Linked DNA regions of Homo sapiens: regions 2, 3, 4, 5 and 6 are each reported to be linked to region 1. Evidence: microRNA targets listed by miRTarBase, many of them from high-throughput screens and not tested one by one. Region 1 holds a microRNA gene; each other region holds the end of a gene's coding sequence. Distances are between the middles of the regions.

Region 1 (4,089 bases):
TAGTAGTCACCTCATAGGATTGTCCTGCGTGTTAAATGGTCTCATACATGGAAAGCACTTTGGAGTGCCCAGCACCTGAAATGCTCAGTAAGTGCTGCTGTGGTTATGATGATCCCCCTCTCCCACCAATGGGCTTCCTGGAGTGATCATCTTCGATCAGGAATATCAAGACAGCAGGGCCCAGCAGTGAAGGATGGTGGCAGGAGGGGAGGTATGGAACTCAGATGTCCTCGGTCTCTTCTGTTTATTCCAATTAAGTACCCCAGATGCCAAACCTCTTCTGTTATTATTGTTGGTTTGTTTGTTTGTTTGTTTTGGAGACAGAGTCTCACTCTGTTGTCCAGGCTGGAGTACAGTGTCATGATCTCAGCTCACTACAGCCTCAACCTCCTGGGCTCAGTCATCCTCCCACCTCAGCCTCCCAAGTAGCTGGAACTACAGGCGCACATCACCATACCCAGCTAATTTTTGTATTTTTTTTTTTTCGTAGAGACGGGGTTTCACCATGTTGGCCAGGATGATCTCAACCTCCTGGGCTGAAGTGATCCTCCTGCCTCAGCCTCCCAAAGTGCTGGGATTATAGGCGTGAGCCACTGCGTCCGACCTTCTGTTAGGGTTTTGACCCTGCTCACCTCAGGGGATGGAAAAGACTTCTCCCTTTCTTGCAGCCTCCTTAATCCCCAAACCTTCCCTTTCCTGGCAGAGGTCATGGCATGGAGTGAAGAGTCCCTGGGCTGAGCTGCTGTGCCAGTGGACAGCTGAGTGACCTTGGGCAAGTCACTGCCCACCTTGGGGCGGCGGCTTTCCTCAGGTGGAAATGAGGTTCTAGCTGTATGGTGAGGAGGATGAACGTGTCCCATCAGCCCCACCTGACCATGGGCCTCTGAGATGTTCCAGGTGCTTCAGCCATACTGTAAGTCTCCTGAGTAAGGAACAGCTGGGGTCAAATCCTGCTCTGTCACTCATGAGCTGTGACCCTGAGCCAGGAGTGAGTAACTCTGAACCTCATCCGTAAACAGATCATTCTACGGTCGAGTGTCCCTCATCTGAAATGCTTCAGAACAGAGTGTTTCGTTTTTTGGGTTTTTGTTTTTTTGAGACGGAGTCTCGCTCTACCTCCCAGGCTGGAGTATAGTGGCCAGATCTTGGCTCACTGCAACCTTCACCTCCTGGGCTCAAGCCATCCTCCTACCTCAGCCTCCTAAGTAGCTGAGACTACAGGCACACGCCACCACGTCCAGCTAATTTTTGTACTTTTAGTAGAGATGGGGTTTTGCCATGTTGGCCAGGCTGGTCTAGAACTCCTGACCTCAAGTGATCCGCCCTCTTCCGCCTCCCAAAGCGCTGGGATTATAGGCATGAGCCACTGCGCCTGGCCGGAAGTGTTTTGTATATTGGACTTGCTTGGATTTTGGAGAATTTGCCGAACAAGTTGAGCATCCCTACTCCCAAGTTCCAAAGTCCAAAATGCTCCAATGAGCATTTCCTTTGAGCGTCACGTTGACACTCAAAAAGTTTCAGATTTTGGAACATTTCGGATTTTGGATTTTTGGATCAGGGATGCTCAACTTGTCATGCGTTCCTCATACGCTTATGTGGTGGATTCAGTGAGATGATCCTGTCTCACTTAGGTTAATGCTTGGCATGTGGTGGCAAGTGCTTGACAAATGTTGCCTGATGTTTGCTGGGCAGTGGCTGAAGCAGCTCATCCCTGGCATTGGGTCTTTCTTTCTTTTTTTTTTTTTTGAGACATCGTCTCACTCTGTTGCCCAGGCTGGAGTGCAGTGGCACGATTTTGGCTCACTCCAACCTCTTCTTCCCGGGTACAAGCAATTCCTCTTCCTCAGCCTCCCAAGTAGATGGGATTACAGGCATGTGCCACCATGTCCAGCTAATTTTTGTATTTTTAGTAGAGACGGGGTTTCACCATGTTGGCCAGGCTGGTCTCAAACTCCTGACCTCAAGTGATCCACCCTCCTCAGCCTCCCAAAGTGTTGGGATTACAGGTGTGAGCCACTTTGCCTGGCTGGGCCTTTCTTTCCCTCCAGGCCCCGCCCTGGGCCCTGCACTTTCTCTGCTCACCTAGTGTTGCCTTTATGTCGGTGATAGGGAGGATTAGCCTTATCAGGCTCCAGATAATGGCTGGAAAAGTCAGGAGGCTGCATGAAGCAAAGATAATTTCCTTTCTATTTCTCCTCTCCTTGTCCTTGGCCACCCCTCACCTTAGCCACTGGGGAACCCAAGGGGCCAGTGTCCAGCCCCAGGTGATAGCAGAAGAGCACTGGCCTTGGAGTCCAGTCCTGGGGGCCTGGTGTCAGCTCTGACACTCATGCATTGATTGTATTTCTCAGGTGCTTACTGTGGCCAGTCAGTGTGTTAGGCTTGGGGTGCCTGGTGGTGAATGGGATGGGTACGGGCTGGCTGTGTGGAGCCTGTGGCCTGGCGGGCACACAGATGGTCAGTCAGAGCTCTATAATAGGGTTTTCACTAGTGCTTCCAGAAAAGTCTAGAGCTATGAGAGGAATCCGATAGGAGCCCCATTCCGGCTATGTGAGGTTGGACCAGTGGAGGACATCTCAAGCAGAGAGGACCCCAGAAGAGACCGGGGTGACCGGATTGCACCAAATGGGGCAGGGTGATGGGGAATACATTTGGAGGCCTTGGTAAGGATTCTGATGTCTTTATTTTAGAAGAAATGAGAAGCCACTGAGTAGTTTCTCACTGAGCTCCCCACTGTGCCATCTCTCTGATGATCAGATTTTCATGTTAACTTTGGTTGCGGTGTGGACCTGAGTGACTTGGAGACTGGAGCAGGGCTGGCATGGCGTGAGTCCAGGTTGAAGTGACTAGTACCTCGGACGAGGTGTCTTGGGCAAGGTGGAGTCTGGGCCCTCTGTGTCTTTTCAGTTTTTCCCTCTATAGATTTCTGAAGCTGCATTGGCTGGCCCACAGCTCCTTGCAACCCTGACATCTCCTGGTGCAGAAGGTGAAATGGTGCCTGGCCTTTGTAGATCAGATCCCAGTACTTGCAACCCTGACATCTGGTGCAGGAGGTGAAATGGTGCATGTCCTTTGTAGATCATATCTCAGTACTTGTAGCCCTGACATCTCCTGCCACAGGAGGTGAAATGGTGCATGGCCTTCATGGATCGGATCCCAGTACTTGCAGCCCTGACATGTCCCGCTGCAGGAGGTGAAACGGTACATGGCCTTCGTGGATCAGATCCCAGCATTTGTAGCCCTGACAACTTCCAGTGCAGGAGGTGAAACGGTGCATGGCCTTCGTAGATTAGATCCCACTTGTAGAGGGTGAGGGGGACCAACTTGAGGTCTCAGGCTCAGGGCATGAGCAGAAAGGGCACTGCAGATTTTCAGGGAAACCTGAGTCAGATTCAGACTCTGTCTTGTGCCGCCTTCCCTAAGTGGGAGGACTGAGGGCTGCTCTGAGAAAGGTTGGGTTGGATCCATATCTGCCTCCCAGAGCCAGGCACTTCCTGGGTGCTTGGAAAACGCATGCTGAATAATTGAGTGAGCTGTTATTGACCTGATCCAATTTATCTCTGCATCGTTGCCATGTGGAATAAATGTGTACTGACTGCATAAATGCGTGAATGGATGAGGAATGCTGTCCTGCCAAGAAGGTCCTCATGGATCCTCAGAGAGGCCCCAAGTCCTGTGACTGATTCATCTCTGCCTTCACCCGAGCAGCCAGTGGATGGATACTCCTGTTAGCCCAAAATTGTTCATGAACCAAAAAAAAAAAAAAAAAAAAAGAAAGAAAGAAAGAAAAAAGAAAGCACTGATGGGTGGGAGTCCTTAGGTTATTTTTAGCTGCAGTCGACTCAGGCTGAACTTTGAACTAGTGTCTGTTCTCCAGGCCACACTCAGACTGATGGACGGACAGCTGGGCCAGTGCTTGGAGACTTCCAGGCACAGGGAAAGCCGTGGGGGCATGTGATCCTGAGGTCACAGTGGGCATCTGGGCCTCTGCCCTGTGGAAGGAGGAGGGAGGCCTGCAGGATCTCTGACTCTGACATTTCCTGGGAGGGAACGGAGAAAGGAGAACTGGCCGCTACTACATTTATTTAT
Region 2 (4,089 bases), not on the chromosome of region 1:
TATTTTTTGTCACCCACTAGAATATAAGCTCACTGAGACCAGTGAGCTTGTCTGGTTTGTTCACTGCTACATTCCCACGCCTACATGAGTTTCTGACTCATGGTCAATATGTAATTATTTGTTGAATGAATGAATGACTTCATTTTTATGTGTATAAATTTGGTGACTACTGAATTTATAACAACCTGATGGAAAACAAGTCTGACATGTTTGGAGAAAAATTGATTAGAAATGATCCTAATTCAGCCGGGCATGGTGGCTCACACCTATAATCCCAGCACTTTGGGAGGCCGAGGCAGGTGGATCACCTGAGGACGGGAGTTCAAGACCAGCCTGACCAACATGGTGAAACCCTGTCTCTACTAAAAATACAAAAAATTAGCCGGGCATGGTGGTGCATGCCTGTAATCCCAGCTATTTGGGAGGCTGAGGTAGGAGAATCGCTTGAACCCGGGAGGTGGAGGTTGCAGTGAACCGAGATCGCGCCATTGCACTCCAGCTTGGGCAACAAGAGCGAAACTCCGTCTTGAAAAGAAAATAAAAGGTTCCTAATTCTCCATTTCTAAGAAATACTAACTTTTTTCTTTTCTCTTTCTTTTTTTTTTTTAATTGTTGTGGGTGTTCAATGTAGATCTGAAGAGGAATGATTATACGCCTGATAAAATTATATTTCCTCAGGATGAGCCTTCAGATTTGAATCTTCAGCCTGGAAATTCCACCAAAGAATCAGAATCAACTAATTCTGTTCGTCTGATGTTATAATATTAATATTACTGAATCATTGGTTTTGCCTGCACCTCACAGAAATGTTACTGTGTCACTTTTCCCTCGGGAGGAAATTGTTTGGTAATATAGAAAGGTGTATGCAAGTTGAATTTGCTGACTCCAGCACAGTTAAAAGGTCAATATTCTTTTGACCTGATTAATCAGTCAGAAAGTCCCTATAGGATAGAGCTGGCAGCTGAGAAATTTTAAAGGTAATTGATAATTAGTATTTATAACTTTTTAAAGGGCTCTTTGTATAGCAGAGGATCTCATTTGACTTTGTTTTGATGAGGGTGATGCTCTCTCTTATGTGGTACAATACCATTAACCAAAGGTAGGTGTCCATGCAGATTTTATTGGCAGCTGTTTTATTGCCATTCAACTAGGGAAATGAAGAAATCACGCAGCCTTTTGGTTAAATGGCAGTCAAAATTTTCCTCAGTGTATTTAGTGTGTTCAGTGATGATATCACTGGTTCCCAACTAGATGCTTGTTGGCCACGGGAAGGGAAATGACTTGTTCTAATTCTAGGTTCACAGAGGTATGAGAAGCCTGAACTGAAGACCATTTTCAAGAGGGACGGTATTTATGAATCAGGGTTAGGCTCCATATTTAAAGATAGAGCCAGTTTTTTTTTTTAAATAGAACCCAAATTGTGTAAAAATGTTAATTGGGTTTTTTAAACATTGTTTTATCAAGTCACTGTTAAGTAGAAGAAAGCCATGGTAAACTGATACATAACCTAAATTATAAAAGCAGAAACCTAACTCACTCGTCAAGGGAAGTTACCTTTTGAGGAAAGTTAAAGTACTTTTTTCCCTATCTGTATCTATAGCAACAACCCAGAACTTACAAACTTCTCCAAAGATTTTATTGATTGTTATATCAAATCAGAATGTAAACATGAACTCTTGCATATATTTAAAATTGTGTTGGAACATTTGAACATGAATGCTGTTTGTGGTACTTAAGAAATTAATTCAGTTGGATTATCATTATGTGATACTGGCAGATTGCAGTGCAACCTTATGCCAATAAAATGTAATTTAACAGCCCCAGATATTGTTGAATATTCAACAATAACAAGAAAAGCTTTTCATCTAAGTTTTATGCTTTAATTTTTTTTCTTTTTTTTTCTTTTTCTTTTGTTTCCTTGGTACTAATTTTAATTTTTATTTGGAAGGGAGCAGTATAAAGCTTATTTGTATTTAGTAGTGTATCTCATAGATACAGACAAGGCAAGAGATGATAAGCTGTTTAAATAGTGTTTAATATTGATTGGGGGTGGGGAGAAAGAAAAAGTGTATTACTTAAAGATACTATATACGTTTTGTATATCATTAAATCTTTAAAAGAAATGAAATAAATTTATTGTTTACAGATGTTTAGTGAGTTTAATCATTCTGAAAAATTATCTGACATTTTCAGGGTGTCAATTTGAGTATCAGTTTTTTTAAATGAACCATTTGTATACCTGTGCTTTTGATCTCCTGTCCTGTACAATGTTTAAATTAATACTGATTTCTTACTGTCTTCTTAGAAATCTGTTTTTTGTTAGGCCAAAAAAGGGCAATATGGGCTGTCTGTTGATTTTTAATTTTATATTGATTATTTTCACAGGATTATAATAGTAGCTATACTTTTTTTTTTTTTTTTTTTTTTGAGACGGAGTCTCGCTCTGTTGCTTGGGCTGGAGTGCAGTGGTGCGATCTCAGCTCACCACAACCGCCGCCTTCCGGGTTTAAGTGATTCTCCTGCCTCAGCCTCCCGAGTAGCTGGGACTACAGGCACACGCCACCATGCCCAGCTAATTTTTATATTTTTAGTAGAGACAGGGTTTCACTATGTTGGCCAGTGTGGTCACAAACTCCTGACCTTGTGAGCCACCGCACCTGGCTGCTAACACTTATTTAGTGCCTACTGTGTACCAGACATTACTCTAAGTATTTCACATATATTAACCTACTTAATCCTTATAACAATGTTATAAAGAAATAGGTGTTATTATCCTGTTTTGCAGATTTGAAAGTCAAGGTGCTAGAGAGGTAAAGTAACGTCCATAAGATTCTTACGTTTATTTAATAATAAGTAGCAACGGTAGGATTTGAACCCAGGCTGGCTGCCTTTCATCTATACTGTTTTTGTTTTGTTTTGTTTTGTTTTGTTTTGTTTTGTTTGTCTTGGTGGGGCATGGTGGCTCATGCCTGTAATCCCAGCACTTCGGGAGGCCAAGGCAGGTGGATCACTTGGGCTCAGGAGTTTGAGACCAGCCTGGGCAACATGGCAAAATCCTATCTCTGCTAAAAAAAAAAATACAAAAATTAGGCCAGGTGCAGTGGCTCATGCCTGTAATCCCAGCACTTTGGGAGGCCAAGGTGGGCGGATCACAAGGTCAGGAGTTCGAGACCAGCCTGACCAACATAGTGAAACCCCGTCTCTACTAAAAATACAAAAAATTAGCTGGGCATGGCGGTGAGTGCCTGTAATCCCAGCTACTCAGGAGTCTGAGGCAGGAGAATTGCTTGAACCTGGGAGGTGGAGGTTGCAGTGAGCTGAGATCGTGCCATTGCGCTCCAGCCTGGGCAACAGTGCGAGACTCCGTCAAAAAAAAAAAAATAACTGGATGTGATGGTGTGCACCTGTAGTTCCAGCTACTTGGGAGACTGAGGTGGGAGGATCACTTGAGCCTGGGAGACTGAGGCAGCAGTGAGCTGAGATCATGCCACTGCTTTCCAACCTGGGCAACAGAGTGAGATCCTGTCTCAGAAAGAAAAAAAAAAAAAAGACAACCTCTTGCTCTGTTGCCCAGGCTGGAGTGTAGTAGCGTGATCATAGCTCACTGCAGCCGTAAACTCCTGGGCTCAAGCAATCCTCCTGCCACTGCCTCTTGATTAGGTGGAACCACAGGCATGCACCACCACACGTACCTAATTTTATATATATATTTTTTTATTTTTCATTTTTATTTATTTTTGTTTTTTTGAGTTGAAGTCTCACTCTGTTGCCCAGGCCGGAGTACAGTGGCACAATCTTGGCTCACTGCAACCTCTGCCTCCCAAGATCAAGCAATTCTCGTGCTTCAGCCTCCAAAGTAGCTGAGATTACAGGTACCCACCATAATGCCTGGCTGATTTTTGTATTTTTCGTAGAGACAAGGTTTCACCTTGTTGGCCAGGCTGATCTCAAACTCCTGACCTCAAGTGATCCACCTCCCCCGGCTACCCAAAGTACTGGGATTATAGGTGTGAGCCACCATGCCTGGGTAACACCCAACTAATTTTAAATATATATTTTGTAGAGATGGGGTCTAGCCTTGTTGCCCAC
Region 3 (4,089 bases), not on the chromosome of region 1:
AACCTTCTAATTTGAATAACAATTATAGCAGTACTCTAAAGTATTTCACACAAAAGGAAAACACTGATCACAAATCTAATTCTAAGCACTCTGTCTGAAGAACAATTTATCTTTCACAAGCTGAGCTGTTTCAGTATTAGTGAATCGAGTAACACCTAGAAGCATGTGGACCACAAATTCTCTAGTGCATGAGCAAGTCAAGTTCTGAGAAAGGAACTGATGCTTTTTAAAATTTTCTGTCTGGCCAGGCGTGGTGGCTTACACCTGTAATCCCAGCACTTTGGGAGGCTGAGGCGGGCAGATCACTTGAGGTCAGGAGTTTGACACCAGCCTGGCCAACATGGTGAACCCGTCTCTACTAAAAATACAAAAATTAGCCAGGTGTGATGGTGGGCGACTGTAATCCCAGCTACTCAGGAGGCTGAGGCAGGAGAATCACTTGAACCAGGAAGGCAGACGTTGCAGTGAGCCGAGATCTCATCACTGCACTCCAGCCTGGGCAACAGAGCAAGACTGGCAAAAAACAAAAACAAAACAAAACAAAACAAAAAAAACAAAAAAAAACCCACCTTTCTGTCAATAACCTAGCTTTGGTGAGTAAACCTAGATGCTCATAGTTAGCCAGGTTGAATTTAAGCAAAACTCAAGGATGTTGGAGAAACTGTGGGGGGTGTGTGTGTGTGTGTGTGTGTGTAAGATGAGGACTTTCAGTGAAGGAAAGGGATTATACCAAAAAAGGTACAATTCCACCTGTGTTTTTTTCCATCACTGCATATTTTTAAAGTTGAAGGCAGCTTATCATTTATCCTAAGAAGCCATTTCAGTTTGTATAATAGCCTTCTTCAGACAAATTATCATCTGGCTATTCTTACAGTTCATCACTTATTCCATCCAAAAGCATCTATATAACTTTTGACTTAGCATTATGTAGAGACAAATGTAGAACTAGCAGGAAAATTAATTCAAACACATGAACGCTATTCATCAGCTATGATTACAGTTTGGCTATGATTCACTATCAGAATGAACCGTGAGTTTTTCTTTTGAATATTTACAGATTCTTATTTAAGTAAGGTGCTTTGAAGACCTAAACACCTGAATAAAAATTCACCTGTTTGTAGGTTTTTAAAAACAACTATGTGGAAATAGAAAATGAATTATATTGCATAACACATACCTTTAGACTAGCTTGGGAGAAGTTATTTCATTTTCACAAAAACAGCTAACTACTGAAACTTAAAGAGATAAAGGGTTTAAGAAACTGCATAATTGATTTTAGTAATGATCACAACTCAAGTACTACCATGTAAAGTGTTAACTCCTGAGAACACTGGAAAGTTCTACTCAAAATATCTATCATCTAGCTCTATTCAGGGTAATAATAAATCATGATCTGATGCTACAACTAGGCATACAGCATACAGTGCATCATTTATTAAAAATCAGCACTCATTAAACTTTCAGGAGCAACATAACTAGGTCCTTAAACATTTAGAGAAATATGTATAATAAAAAATCCAAGTAAAATGAGATCTTCAAGTACACTACTGAACACCATCAAATGCCTGTCAGCCCAAAATACTGCATTTTAACCTGCTTCAACTGGTAAAGTTTTCACACAAAGGAGTACCTAGAAGTATAGTTTATATCATTTTGTTTCCTAAAATTGTAAAGATAAATATTTTACAACTACTGAAAATATTTTGTACTCACCTCTAACTAGTCAAGGGTAAATGGAGAAAACCTTGTATTACCTTGTACCATATGAAATTGCTGTTTTTGTAGGTCAAAATTAAAACAATGTATTTAAAAAAATAAGTTTTATTCAATCAAAATATGCATCAGGAGCATGAATAGTTTTCTTCCAACAGAATATTAAAGGTCTAACTTTTATAAAATTCATCATTTGTTAGGCTGTATAAATTGTTAACATCTTCCAGTTACTTCATCTCGATTGGGGAATGCATTGTTTCTTAGAAAAAGCTCCAAATGATAGACAGTAGTCCATGGAATAAAGGTCCAGTGACTAAAATGGACATGACAAAATTTCATAGCCCAAGTCACTTAACTTTGCTTTAGTAGCTTGTGACATGTGAGGTCGAGTCCTTGTCTGTGAAAGTGTAGGTTCTTGTGTGTTACCCAAAGGACATTGTTTTTAAATCACATTTTCATGCATAATTTAAATTTCTTGATAATATGCTGCTGCCGTCATTGTTTCACTTGGGTTTAAATAACAGTAATTATTTATCTCTTTCGTAGATCACCACACAATCTTCAGAATTTTTTTGGTTGCAATGATAATGGTGGCAACATATTAGGGAGCTTTACCAGCCTCCAATGATTGTATAAATTGCCATTAGCTGTCAAACAGCACACATTTTTTTTTTTTGGCCACAGGTTATAATCTGCTCCAAAAATGGATTTCTGCTGTTTTGAATCTTAATGAGCACAACTCCAACTGTCTCCATTCTTGATCATCCCTCAAGAGGGTACTCTCAGGTCCATTTTTATACTTTTCCCCAGTCAGAGCGGGAATTCCTTAAGTCTGCTGCAAGGCTTCAAATTGTTGTTTGCAAGTTAGATTTCACTTTGGCTCTTAATTGATCTTTGTTTAAAATGGATTTTGATCTCCCCTAGGGTTCATTTTTGAAATTCAGATCCCCAGAACAAGATTTTTCAAACCACCACTGAGTAGTTCTTTTACTAGCAGAGCCCTCTAAGGCCAAATGGATGTTTCTACCTTCCTCATCTGCAATATGTCCCAGTTCAAAATTATAAAAAAGTATTCACAATTCTTCTGTGGATACTATAGTATTTCTCTGGAAAACAATAAACAATAACAAGACAACTCAATATCAAAGAAAAGTAGGAGCATAATACTATCATAATTCTAAATAGCACAACTGGGAACGTACGTTATACCAACTTTACTAATTGCAGTCAATTTTCAACTGATCTAATATTAGCAATTTCATGTGGTACCATCCACAAGTTAATCAACAATACTTACTGAGAATTTACTATATGCTAAGATCTGTCTCGTATCTGTACAAACAGATATCCTGAAAACTCACTTGAAATATGAAATTCATTGATTCCAAAGACCCTAGTGGAGGAGGAATCTGGTGTCATACTATTATTTTTTTAATCCATAAAAATGTATGCTTTCCCCCATGTTACAGTTACATATATTATGTTGTGAAGACGTGTTAAGTGGATCCTTGATAAACTTTTTGAACTAAATCTTTAATATGGTACAACCAAAGTTCAGCACTGAAATACACGTTTTTCAATGATTCTAACTTTTAAAAGTTAAAACTTGCCTACATTTGTTATATATTATTTTGAAGTTTCAAGAGGCTTTTATGTTTGTGATAAATAACAACAACTAACATTTATTTATGTTTCTAAAGCACCCCCATATACATTATTCTCATTTAAGACAGCAAGCAAAGACAATAAAAAATTTGCTCTAGTGATGAAGTGATTAATAAAAACTAAGTAAATAATGTTTTTGTGTATGCATTTAAAAAAATAATGTAAAACATTAAAATCCTGTGTCAATGAACTTCTGCAATGCACAGGAAAATAAACCCACTTTAGTTAATGCCTTTGATTAAGCATCACTGCCCACTGCAGATGGACCAAAAGTTTCTCTAGTACGCATTAACTGGACATCTTTGTCAGCCATACAGGTATCACAGCCCCATACTGCAGATGCTTCTGCAGTTAAGAGGCCATAAGCTGTTTCAGTCATTCCAGTACAGATCCGATGAAACCATTTCTGACAAGAGGCCTCACATAAGATGGCATCCTGATCATCGTTCACCTCGTTTGTACAAATTCCACAAGGATACACTGGGTCAGAAGACGAATGGCCATGACGGTTTGGGTGAAGAGAGGATTTATTGCTTTTTTCTGTGGTGCAGGCATCTGCTGCACCTCTTGGTTGTCGTGGCTTATTCTGCGTCCCATTTGCAGGGTTATTGTTTGTGGCTTCAGTGCTACTTGAACGGCTGTTCTCCTGATTTACTGCATTGTTTCGATTAACATTTTTTAATTCAATATTACTCTGATTCACTGTGTCAT
Region 4 (4,089 bases), 220 Mb from region 1:
TTTCTTCTTCCAGTGTGGCCCAGGGAAACCAAAAGATTGGACACACCTGCTCTAGCCAACGTTCATTCCAGCCCTCCTGTGTCAATCTGCTCTTCAACTCAGCCTTTCAACACACTCAGGTCCTGCTTATCTGGGCAGTTTGTGGCAGGAGCTGTGGAGGCTAGGGCATACCCCCTTCCACCCTCTCCAAAGCATTACTTTTACTATTAATATAATAACTTTGGAGGTGGCAAAGAGAAATTTATGTTAGAGCAAAACTACAAAAACTCTCATAGATCTGATACTGATGACTTGTACACTTCAGATCATTATCAGTGATGTAGAATACAACGTATTCTCAGCTAGCACGTTCTGCTACCAATTAGCTGCTTTTTACAGTGCTAACGTACACATTCTGTCACCTTAACACAGCTGGTTTCTCTAACAAGCCTTCATGTTTCGCACGTCAGCACCACCACCACTGGGCTCCTCTCACGAACCTGTTGTAACGGGCCTCCCAGGTGACTGCTATCTCCTGACGCTGGGCCCACCACCACCTGGAAGCCCTCAGGCGCTGACACTACCACAGGGATTTTCTTCACCTGGAATCTGAAGCAAATGTGCATTCTTCTGGCAGGGAAGCCTGCGGCCCTAGACATCCTCAAAGACGTTAACAACAAAAAACCCACAGCTTTAGACTCAATAAATTCAGCAGAGTTCACTTCTCCAAACATACGCCAAGCCAAAGTTTTCTCCAAGCCCTTTAATATTCACTTAAACAGTTGAGGCACAAGCAATAATAAAACTGCATTTTTTACGTTACAAAAAGATTTTGTATGTTATCTGCATGATATACCAATTTTCTCAATCTCTTCTGCAATAACATCTCATTAACACTCTGGTCCACATGTTGATTTAATAAAGTCAGAATGGCAGGTGGGAGGATGGTAAAATAAACTTACCAAGGGGCAAAAGGAACCAAACATTTACTGAGTGCCGACTATGCAAGCTCTACTAGGTTTTACACACTTTACATAAACGTGAACCTAAGTTCTAGTTATCAGTTAACAGGCCAGCATTGCTACAGCCAGTAAGTCTATGTTTTCAATGTTCTTTCGCTTTTAAGTACAAATTGTGGAACAAAACTATATCTTTGCCCAAAGAAGCACATCAACTGTTGCACTAATACATTATTTTCCATTTCCAAAGTTTTTTAGTAAGTGTGCAACATTAGCACATGGAAACGCTCAAGCTGTGTATTAGTTCACTGAGATCTGGGGTTTTTTTGTTCTCACCTGCTGAGCACCATTTGGCCAGCATCACTACAACAAGCTGATTACATCACCTTGTAAAACTTAAGATGGGGATGAATAGTGTTTGGCAATTACATTTCTGGGAGAAAAAACTGCTGATTTTTTCTTTAACTCGACACAGCTAGCTTTAAAAAGTGGTACCTCATTTTAAAGCACCAAAGTTGTCATTTAAATAAGAAAACGTACTTGGGTTAATGAACTGTAAAATGAAGATACCAACGCCTTTTCAAGCATTACAGCAAAGCCAGTATGTTCAGAGCCAAGTGACACCCAGCTCATACTGCACTCCAGTTCCCAAGGAAACGGCGTTTCTACCCTCCCCAAACTTAAGCTGCCCCTCACTCCTCCAGCCAGCCCTCCTTTTTCTGAGCCCATTCTTTCCTTGCTGAGCTATCTGCCCCTTGCTCCCTTTCCCACCCCTGTTCTCCCTCTAACTGCCCCTCTATACATGTCTGGGCTGCTGCCTAAGACTTCTTAGCTGCCTGGTTAGTCACTGACCAATCACCACTACACTGCTTTGGATTTGGGATCCCACTAGTAAAACTAACTGGCATGTCTGTACTGGTCATCCCCCCAAAAAAGCCCTCCTGTGTAACAAAAAAGCACTGTTTAAGGGTTCAGGATCACAAACCCTCAAGATACCCGAGAAAAGTCCTCAAATGTGAGTCGCCTAGTCTAACAGTAGAGGTAAGTTCAAAGATGAAATGTGATTTGTTCAAGGCTGTGCGGCTAATCAGAGGCAGAAACTAGACCTATTTCTCCTTCCACTGCACCACAAAAAAACCGAGATTGATAATGATTAAGAAGAGTTTGTAAGTCAATCAAAATAAAATGCCTAGTACATAGGAAAAGTCTTTGGGATTTCTCCAGACTTTTAGACAGAACAAAGGCAATCTTTACAATGAGAAATGCTCCTCAGTTCAACAGATGCCACCAAGTACCAAGGATCCTTACTCAGTTCTGAAACTGTGACTACGGAGAATATGTCACTATTTGAGAATAAGAGGTCCCACCTGCTCCACTCTTTTCAAGTTTTCAGTCACAAGGTTGCAACTTACTCTCATCGTTTCACAAGATAATCAAGTTGAAGCAGGATTAAGGAGGTACACTGAAGATAAAGCAAAAGGCAACAAGCATTTTTACAAGCAGATCATCCCAGTTACCTTAAAAGTTTCGGATTAATTTACAGAGTAGTGACAGAACCATATAATTTCAGTGAAAATCAAGATAGTTATACCATTAAAAAAAACATCAATTCAGAAATACTAAGTCAGGCAAGCATGCAAAATTCAGAATATAAAAAAATGCAGGGCCTGGTTGCCCACATACATTCCTCAGGTTAAGGTGGATTTAAAGATGCCCAACAGAACCCAATGAATCAGAAGCTAAAAGGGACACTTCAGTGATCAGCAGACGCATTCTCTCACGTAACAAATGGAGGGAAAGTGAGCACACATTAACTAGCGAAGCTCACAAGGCTAGATTAGGGGTGTACAGAAATCTAATTCCTGGTGCTATTTGCAACTACATATATTTAAAATACAAGGAGATAAATACCCAGAACACATTAAGCCTACTGATTTAAACAGAACATTTCAAGACTGCTACACAGAAAGGGAAGGAAGCTGTTAACCCAGCACAGCAGCACACCTCACATATTTACGTCTCAGAGATTAAATGGAAAGAAAGGATCAATCAAAACCTTTAATGCTCAGTTTTCACAAACACAGTCAAGTCTATCAAATTTCCAGATTTACAGCAAAATGTGCCCTCTAAAAAAGTGTACATTCTTCAGTTTCTCCTATACTTTTTTTTTTTTGCCTATCTTTCAAAACTGAGCACTGGGTATTTTTAACATAAGCCATGTCATATGTACAGTTTAACTATGTAACTATGTTTCAGGAATAAACAAAATCCATGATATTTTAGTAACTCATAGTGTATTTATAGAATGAAAAGTTCTCTATCAAAATACACTTTTCACTGGGAAAAATAAATAAAATAGACAAATGGATCTACACAAAGTAAACATTAACTTTGGTAGATTTCAGTGTAGTTCATAACAAGCATATTTGCCCTTATTCCCCCAGAGCTGCTCAACTACCAAGAATTTTTAAAATATTTTTAACTGAGATTTTATTATGTTGACATTTGTTTCTCATTCCACATCATCTTCAGCCAAGCTCTGAGCACTTACAATTCTCTGAAAGAAAAAAAAAATAATTTTTTAAAGTGTCATAAGCATTTAATTAGGATTCTAACTTCAAAATAAAATGCTCTTTGTATTCAAAGAATTGAATCTTAGTAAAGTTCACCCATTCTGACATTTAATTCAAAATGTAACACTTTACACACAGTCGGCATCCAAGAAAACAATGATCATACTACTGACAATCCCATTTCAAAAGTCAAGTTAACAAAGGAGGCAGATCATTACATTATATATGTTTTTAATTCAGATGGGGTCTCTGTAACCCAGGCTGGAGTGCAGTAGCACAATCTCAGCTCACTGCAACCTCTGACTCCTGGGCTCAAGCGATCCTCCCCCACCTCAGCCTCCTGAGTAGCTGGAACCACAGACTCATGCCACCATGCCCGGCTAATTTTTTTTTTATTTTTGGTGCAGACAGGGTTTTACCATGTTGCCCAGGCTGGCCTTGAACTCCTGAGCTCAAATGAGTGCTAGGATTATAGGGCATGAGACACTGTGTACAGCCATCATTACATAATATTACATCAGTCAATTATGTAACTAAAACCAAAAAGATTTTAAGATCTCTTTTCACTCCCAGGCAAA
Region 5 (4,089 bases), not on the chromosome of region 1:
ACATCATATTTCTATTGGACGGTGCTGCCCTAGACGCTGCAGGGAGATAAGTCCTGCTTATGTCCTGCCCAAGGGTGGCTTCCCAAAGCCTCGGGGGTCTCACCGAAAGTGGCTGAGCTTACCAAGGTGCGAGAGCCTGTTTCTCCCCAATCTGCTGCTCAGCCACAGCTCAGGCAGTAGGGAGCAGCCACCTGCGCGGACTGGGCCCCTCCGAGAGGGCAATCTGGAGGGTGACGTTGTGGTCGTGGGCATCTGGCAGCTTCGATTTCCCCTGCGTCCCCTGCCGCGCCCTAAGGGGTGAAGGCCGGTGGTGCGCGTTCCCGGCACAACTCCGAGAGGAGGAAACGGAGACAGGGGGCGCCCACGTGGCCTGGCCAAGGTCACCCGGGTCAGCCCGACTCCACGCGGCCCGGCCCGCCCCCTCCCTGCCCCTAGTCGCGCCGGGCCCGGGCCGTACTTGGCGCTCGGTGATCCAGAAGCGCACGTTGGGCTCAATGAAGGCGGGGACGGCGTCTCTGCGTCCTAGGAGCCGCCCAGGTTGCGTTTCCTCCTCCTGTTCCAGGGACATTTTGCGCTGGTTAGAGTGGCCGCCGCCGCCAGGCCGCGCGTGGAGGAGGAGCCGGGCGGCGAGCCCCGCCCCGGGCCGCGCGCACCCGCAGTTCCCGCCCCAGGCCCGCGCGCCCGACGTCCCGTGTCACAGCGCCTCGGGGCCCTTGCGCGCCCACTGTTCCGGCGAGCGCAGCTCTCCCACGGGCCACGTCCTCCCAACCCTGCTTGCCCTGCTCCGCACCTTTGGGGAGCCGGGCCGTCTCCAGGCCCCAAGGGGTCACTATCGGAACCCGTCATCACAGTACCTAATGCGAAGACCCGGAAAGGTTGTGAGTGAGGCCGTCCGCAACCTCACCCTGCGCTTCTGCCGCGCCCTACCCCTGGTCATTACCCTCGAAAATCCCTCCGATGGCCCACGAATTCCAGTGTGCATGGTGTTGCGCAGTCAGGCCGGCTGCATCATGGTCTCAGCCCAGGGAAAATGTCAAATGCGGTGCCCCTTATTCATGTTACTGAGAATTTCAAGAGAGTAACACCAGAGCATCAAACCAAGTATAGGGCCCTGGGCACAGTGCACTATCCCTCAGCCCAACAGGTTGTTTTTTTTTTTCTTCCAGTGTTGGGGCAAATCCAGTTCCTTTTGTTGACTACCAAATAGGTACCATTTGTAAAGAAAAACCTGCCTTCCCTTCCTCCTCCCACCTGCCCTTCCCCAGCACAGGGCCAGGCGGGGGCTGTGTGCACTTAAATTCACGGAAGCCACAAGTGTGCCTAGGTCGTTCAGGGGGCCTCCGGAGTCCAGGACTGGGGGACCCAGCACATCATCTAGTTGTGTGACCCTCGCCAAGTCAGTATCTCGAAGTCTATTTTCCCATCCGCAAAATGAGGATAACAATTGTACCTATCTCAGGGTTTTGTTTCTGATCAAAGGAGATAAAACATCCCTAACACAGCACTGAGCCCTCAGAAGTGCTCAGTATTGGCCATTAACCTCCAGCGGGCCAATTCCTTCCCTTGCCCTGCGCCTCCAGGAACAGGAAATTGGCTCATGGCGTCCTTCAGGCCTGTATGACTCTGCTTCTGTATTTGCTCAGTTTGCCTAGCTCACTTTTCTTAACCTCCAGGGGTTTATCTCCTCTTCCAGGAAGCCTTCCCTGACCCTCCGAGTTGAGTAAGGTGCCCCCTCCACTTCTACCCTTATGCCGCAGAAATCCATCTAAGCACCAGTGCAGTATGTAGCGTGCTGTTCTATTCTGTTGTCTCTACCCTCCAGGATGTCACAAAGCCAGCCCGCTGGCCTGCTTCCCCACTTTGGACTGCTATGTCGTCTTAACAAAGGAGCCAGAGTGATTCTCTTAGAACAAGTTGATGTCACTCTTCTTTTCAAATCCTTCCTGACATTCCCCACCCCAGAACAGAACCTAAAGTCCTTGGCCTGGCCAAAAGGCACTCTGGGACCCCCACCACAGCCATAGTCACCGGCCTCCTAGTAAATCTGCATCCGCTCTGAGCCCACTCTTGCCTCACGGCCTTTGTGTTTTCCCTGCCCTCTGCCTAGAAGTCTCTTATCCCCGTAATACTCTCACTTTCTACGCGTTTTCTCTCCCTCGATGCTCATCAAAACCCTGAGATAAGTACAATTATTGTCCTCATTTTACAATGAGAAAATTGATCCAGAGAGGCTCTCCCTTAAGGCCTTCCTTGACAACCCCATCTAGAACACCTACAACTCCGCTTCAGCAGTTTCACTCCACATTATTTTCCTTCCAAACACTCTACTTTTACTACATGTATGAGGTGTTTCCCCTCTAGAATGTAAGAGCTTAAAAGCAGGGGTTTGTCCGTTGTTCGCTCTTGTGCCTGGAAAACAGCACCTGGTGCGGGGTAGGCACTCAAGGATTTACTGAAACAACGAGAAAATGTTTCCCTATCTGTCTTGCCCCTAAACCGAGTTCCTTGAGTGCGGAACCAGCATCTTATTCTCTTTGTGGCCCCTGAGGTAAATGCTCAATAAATGTTTGTTGATAATCTGAGAAGGAAAGGAGAGCCCAAAATAAGCTGATCCAACAGTTACTGGTGGTAAAATGCAAATGTTTTAAAATATGTTTATTTTGTATGTTTTACAATGAATACTTCAGCAAAGAAAATAATTATAATTTCAAAATGCAATCCCTGGATTTGATAAATATCCTTTATAATCGATTACACTAATCAATATCTAGAAATATACATAGACAAAGTTAGCTAATGAATAAAATAAGTAAAATGACTACATAAACTCAATTTCAGGGATGAGGGATCATGCATGATCAGTTAAGTCACTCTGCCACTTTTTAAAATAATACGATTCACATTTGCTTCAATCACATAAACATTCATTGCAGGAGTTACACGGCTAATCATTGAAAATTATGATCTTTGTTAGCTTAAAAGAAAATTCAGTTTAATACAAAGACATTCAAGATGAAAATTTCAGGACCGTTGATCAGAAGCTTTCAATGTGTGTTGCTCTACTTTATTATAGGCAAGATTCAAGTAAGGCTAAGAAAGAAGAGTGTTTCCATTGAGACATGATCTAAGAATAGCCTTCTATAGAGGCAAATTATGTTCTGTAGAAACTAGCTAGCCAGCCACCAAGATGTTACCAATAAAGGATTCCTTGTACTAGCAACTAACCATGTTTAAAAGGTCTTAGCCAGAATTACAAAAACAAAACATTTAGAGTAATACTTATGAATACAAGCATAATTGGTTCCTTGCCTTCTACAAATAACCATCTTGAAAATGATAAAAGCAGGTTTCAACTGTGGTTCTTCTCTCAGTTGAGAAGGTGCAGATACACATGGGTGATCTACTGATTTACCTTCTGAAAGTACTCTTTGGAAGCAGCTGGACTTGGCTTGATCTGAAAATACAAAAGCTTAATTAGGTAACTGTGACTTTACCATAATAATAGTCCCAAAAGTGAGTGGCAATCTCCCAATTTTTAACCTAAAGTTCTTTAAACTTTTAAAGATTTCCTTTAAAACATAAAGATGAAAGTTTCATTAAGGCCTGCCTGTCTCTAGGCCGGGCACGGTGGCTCACGCCGGTAATCCCAGCACTTTGGGAGGCCAAGGCGGGTGGATCACGAGGTCAGGAGATCCAGACCATCCTGGCTAACACGGTGAAACCCCGTCTCTACTAAAATTCAAAAAATTAGCCGTGGTGGTGGGCGCCCTGTAGTCCCAGCTACTCAGGAGGCTGAGGCAGGACAATGGCGTGAACCCAGGAGGCGGAGCTTGCAGTGAGCTGAGAGAGCGCCACTGCACTCCAGCCTGGGCGAGAGCAAGACTCCGTCTCAAAAAAAAAAAAAAAGGCCTGCCTGTCTCTGATAATTGGTTCCTGGCTCCCCACCCCACCCCCTCTACCCCACAGCAGCTTCACCCATTTGCATATCATCTGCACGCTTGCTTCAAGAGTGGGCTCCCTTTTGTGGATATTTCAGGTCAATAGCTCTCGAGGCTGAGAGAACATGGACCTCACTGCTTTTGGGGAAAA
Region 6 (4,089 bases), not on the chromosome of region 1:
GAAACTAAACTGGTTACAGCAATGCTTAGATGTCTCCACCAAGCTGTACACCTCACGCCTTCTCCTTTCTCTGTGTCTGTTTCTTCTTTCTTGCCTAGAAAAACTCTGAGCTGGACCCCAGCCGGGCCTCCTGCCACTTCAGACATTAATATCCATCTAAATTCATAGACAAGAGCCCAGAGCTGCCAGCCTGCAAGGGGGTGTTCCCAGGACAGGCCACATGGAAGGTGCAGATCAGAACCCAGTCCTTCCATCTGTCTCTGGTAGCCATCCCTCAACATCAGGCTGGCCCTCCCCTCGCTCTGGATTGATTTTATAGAATTCCCTAGAAATGGTTCTGTTAGCCCCAGGTGGAAGCTGTCACCTGAATGAAATCTTACAGGTCATATCTTTTGATCTTTTTCTAGAAGGTACTAAGAAGACAGAAACAAGCAAAGCCGCCACCACAGAGCCCGAAACAACCCAGCCGGAAGGGGTGGTGGTCAACGGGAGGGAGGAGGAGCAGACGGCAGAGGAAATCCTCAGCAAAGGCCTGAGCCAGATGACCACCAGTGCTGACACGGATGTTGATACCTCTAAGGACAAAACCGAGTCGGTCACCAGCGGCCCCATGTCCCCAGAGGGCTCACCTTCCAAGTCTCCCTCAAAGAAGAAAAAGAAATTCCGAACCCCCTCCTTCCTGAAAAAGAGCAAAAAGAAGGAGAAAGTGGAGTCCTGATTCATGACACCCTTGGGCTCCCTCCTGCCTCCTCTCTCTCCTCCCCTTCCCTTCTCCCATCTCTGTCCCTGCAAGCACAGGGCTAAGGAGGGATAGAGTAGGACCCTGGACCACATTCGGAAGGGGAACTTAGAGATCACCCGACCAACCCTTCGTTTTACAGTTGCCCAAGAGAAATCAGGTGACTTGCCCAAGGTCACACAGCTAGTTAGCGGCAGAGCCTGCACTCGAATTCAGGTCTCCTGACTTCCAGTCCAGTGCTCCTTCTACTACACAACACTGCCTAGTTGTGGGCTGCCTTTGTTTGGATGCTGTCCACCAATCTGAGCCTAGGGCAAGAAGGCCAGAAATGGGCCGTGAGCTCTCACAGGCTCAGACTAAATCAGAGGTCAAGGCTTCCCCTGAGTAAGGTCCATTTCTTCCCAGGAATCCAATCTCCTGTGGATGGAGCTATCTCTACATTTAAAAATCTCTTCTCTTTTCCACTTTGGGTCCCTGCCCTGCTGCTCAAAGTGACTAGCCAAATTGACCCCTCCAACAGAAAGTAATCTTTGTTCCCAAGGGCTGATGGCTTAGCTTGTACTACCCCAAACATTAACCCTGAGCTTTCTTCATGGAACCTCTTGAATGATGGATGGAAGAGCTATAAGAGGTGGTAGGCATAGGGGCAAGCCATGTAAGCTGAGGATTGGGGATGGTTTCATCAACATAAGAGGCCAGGAACTTGACCCCTTTGAATTGTGCATCTCAGGCACTTCAAAACTAAAACCAAATTTAGCATAGGAAAAAGTTGTTTAATGCTCAGGGCAGAAATTTGGGGAAGTTGAAATCCTCTGTTGGCTTTGGGTTGTATAAGGAGGATCAAAACAACAGAGGAAATGCTGACTTTCTAGCTTTGCATGACACCTGGAGCAATGCACTGTACCTGCCTCACTCCTGTCCAGTGGTCAGGTTTCCCCTGACCTTCCCTCACCCCCAGAAACACTTGCTTACAGACCGAAACTGGCATCTTACTCTTGGCACCTTGACTTGCACCCTCTGAGGTTCCAACTCAGTCATTCTTTGTCCAGCAGAGGAGAATCAGAAATGAGCCCTTCAGGATTAATCCTCTTGCACCAGCTCTCAGAGAAATGCTGGGTATCCCTGTCCTTGTCCCTATCTGTCCATCCTGGGGCCTGGTAATGGCCACAGTTATTGTTTTAAATGCCAACACTGTCTTCTCATGTTCTTCCGTGGGGCATTGATTAATGAGCATTTGTTGGCTCCTAAAAATTAGACAATCCATTCTCTTGAAAGCACCGTGTCTTGAAAGAATATTTTTCCTTTTGATCTGACTATCGTGAAAATATTTTTGAAAGTTCTTAATCATAGTTTTCCACTTTTGAGCACTTGCTATCTATAGACACTGTGCAGGCTTCACATACATTACATTCTTTAACCCTCACAGTAATCCTTTGAGGGGGGTAAGATCATTCCCATTTTGTGGGTGAGGAAATTGACCCCCTAAAATGATAATTGACTTGTCCCAGCTGACTTGGCTAGAAAGATCTGGATCCTGGATTTGAATCCAGGTCAGTCTGAGTCCAGAGCCCTTGCTCTTAACAGCTATGGTGAACAGACAACTTTAATCCCCAGGGGTGGTGGTTTTCATCCAGGATTTGTCTCTATGACTGTTCTCCATTGCATAATGTTAGCACGTGAAGCAAAGGTAGGGAACACCCTGTGCTCATCCTCATCACTGCACGTGAAGTTCCTGGTCAATGTGGACTGTGGTGATGCTACTGTGTGCCTCTGACAAAGGAGAGGCAAGAGCCTTCTGGTTGGGGCGGGAAATACCATCCATAGTTGGCTATTTCTTGAGAAGGAAGGAAACTGACCTAGGACCAAGGTAAACCTGACACTGTGTCTCTCTAGTGCAGATTCCTAACTGCTACCCCAGGCTCCATCTCTGTTCTACTTCCTGATTGGGTCAAATTTTAGGAGGGACAACCCACTCATGCCTCAGAAAAATCTGTCATATGGGAAATGCCTTTAAAAGCCAATCCCTTGATGCCTTCTTTTAAAAAGTAGATTTCACACTTATTCATTTATCCTTACATGGTATTTGTTAAGGATCCACTGAGCACCAGGCATTATGCTGACGTTGAAAGAGAGCCATCATTATGACTAGAATAATAAGTGGCAAACGATGTTGTGAGAATGGTGAACACGACCTCTGATGCAGCCTTTTGTGTGCGAGTTGTTCTACTTCGGGGGTGATGTTGATTGCCTCTGCATTCAACACACTCTATTCCCTTGACAATGAGGCCTCACTTAGGCCTCATTGGGTGGAGTCTTGCTGCAGCATTATTCTGGGAATTTATGCCATGGGCCCACTTTCTATTGATAGATGAACCTGTCAGTTGGTTCATTCCTCATGCATTCCAAAAACATGCATTGAGCTTGGGTCAAGGGCCAGGCATGAGGATAGGCATAGTTCCTGCCCTCAAGAAGTTCATGAGCATAGGAGGTGTATAGACAAATTGCAAAACAGGCAAGGGTACCAAGGTGGCATAAGAAAGCATCAATTAACTATCTTGGGGACCAGAGAAACCCTGAGAGAAGCAATGGCTGCTAAGGTTTTAAAACAAAGAGTAAATTTCCAGTAGAATGAAAGGATTGGCAGGGCATGCCACAATGAGGGAAGAATGTGCAAAGGTGTGGACGCATGAAATGCCATGATGGGTTCCGCTGAGCAACGTGGCATTGCCAGAGCATGATGTGGAAGCTCAGGGGTTGAGGGGTCCCTTCATAGGTAGGCAGGGCTGAATCCTAAGGAAACTGGTAGGAAGTGTGGAGGAGCTAGACTTGTCATGGAAGGGGTTTGGAGCCACTGGAGCCTTTAAATCAGGATAGAGTCATGATCAGAATTGCATTTTAGGAAAATCCCTTTGGTGGCTGAATGGAGACTGTGGACTGGATGGGCGTGGGATGGTGGCATGGGAGCTATGAGGCCTTTTTGAAATGTCAATACTAAAACATAGTTGATGGCCTGCTTTACACGATGTTTCCTCTACAGCAGATAGTGAGTTTCCAACACAAAATTTATTTCCATAAAAGTCTTTGGATAAAGCACCTTAAGAGGGATTTTCAACAAGGAGAGGGGAGCATTCAAAGAGCTAATGTTTCCAGTTTTATTTTGTCTTGGTGTAGAATTGCTGGGAGAGGTGTCCAGCCATCCTGCCATTTCTTCTTCCCTTGCACAGAATGTGGCACATTTAGCTCCAGGCTTGAGGACATGCACCAAATGCTACAGAAACAGACATGTGGTCCAAACAAATCTACAGGCTATTAGAAAGGAAAGGCCATTTTCTTTGGCTGTGGATAAAAGT

The links. Region 1 holds the annotated microRNA hsa-miR-1290 (UGGAUUUUUGGAUCAGGGA, at 1,543-1,561, shown strand). A microRNA usually pairs through its seed, bases 2 to 8, with sites in the 3' UTR of a target mRNA and lowers its output. Matches are read on the target gene's strand: a 7mer-m8 pairs with bases 2 to 8, a 7mer-A1 pairs with bases 2 to 7 and ends in A, and an 8mer does both.
Region 2: the mRNA of TRPM7 is a reported target of hsa-miR-1290. Seed matches in the 3' UTR shown: 7mer-m8 at 3,051-3,057.
Region 3: the mRNA of PYGO1 is a reported target of hsa-miR-1290. Seed matches in the 3' UTR shown: 8mer at 2,618-2,625 and 7mer-A1 at 2,418-2,424.
Region 4: miRTarBase lists TOMM20 as a target of hsa-miR-1290. Seed matches in the 3' UTR shown: 7mer-A1 at 2,638-2,644 and 7mer-A1 at 1,811-1,817.
Region 5: miRTarBase lists PRDX3 as a target of hsa-miR-1290. Seed matches in the 3' UTR shown: 7mer-A1 at 2,723-2,729.
Region 6: the mRNA of ADD2 is a reported target of hsa-miR-1290. Seed matches in the 3' UTR shown: 7mer-m8 at 3,640-3,646.

The regions. Positions count from the first base shown.
Region 1 is chr1:18,894,550-18,898,638 of GRCh38, reverse strand. It overlaps MIR1290 (microRNA 1290), which reads left to right and starts at 1,491; the gene lies at 1,491-1,568. All of the region lies in intron 1 of ALDH4A1 (aldehyde dehydrogenase 4 family member A1), which reads left to right.
Region 2 is chr15:50,558,351-50,562,439 of GRCh38, reverse strand. It overlaps TRPM7 (transient receptor potential cation channel subfamily M member 7), which reads left to right. Exons shown (of 39, transcript NM_017672.6): 39 at 632-4,089. The coding sequence ends at 762. Among named protein-coding and RNA genes, the nearest start is that of USP50, 14 kb to the right of the region's middle.
Region 3 is chr15:55,542,407-55,546,495 of GRCh38, forward strand. It overlaps PYGO1 (pygopus family PHD finger 1), which reads right to left. Exons shown (of 3, transcript NM_001367806.1): 3 at 1-4,089. The coding sequence ends at 3,617. Among named protein-coding and RNA genes, the nearest start is that of DNAAF4, 36 kb to the left of the region's middle.
Region 4 is chr1:235,108,614-235,112,702 of GRCh38, forward strand. It overlaps TOMM20 (translocase of outer mitochondrial membrane 20), which reads right to left. Exons shown (of 5, transcript NM_014765.3): 5 at 728-3,495. The coding sequence ends at 3,451. Among named protein-coding and RNA genes, the nearest start is that of SNORA14B, 17 kb to the right of the region's middle.
Region 5 is chr10:119,165,080-119,169,168 of GRCh38, forward strand. It overlaps PRDX3 (peroxiredoxin 3), which reads right to left. Exons shown (of 7, transcript NM_006793.5): 7 at 2,641-3,454. The coding sequence ends at 3,401. SFXN4 (sideroflexin 4) reads right to left here and starts at 635. Exons shown (of 14, transcript NM_213649.2): 1 at 458-635. The coding sequence starts at 568. RefSeq lists silencers at 86-272, 314-783.
Region 6 is chr2:70,660,054-70,664,142 of GRCh38, reverse strand. ADD2 (adducin 2) reads left to right here. Exons shown (of 16, transcript NM_001617.4): 16 at 408-4,089. The coding sequence ends at 718. Among named protein-coding and RNA genes, the nearest start is that of ADD2, 110 kb to the left of the region's middle.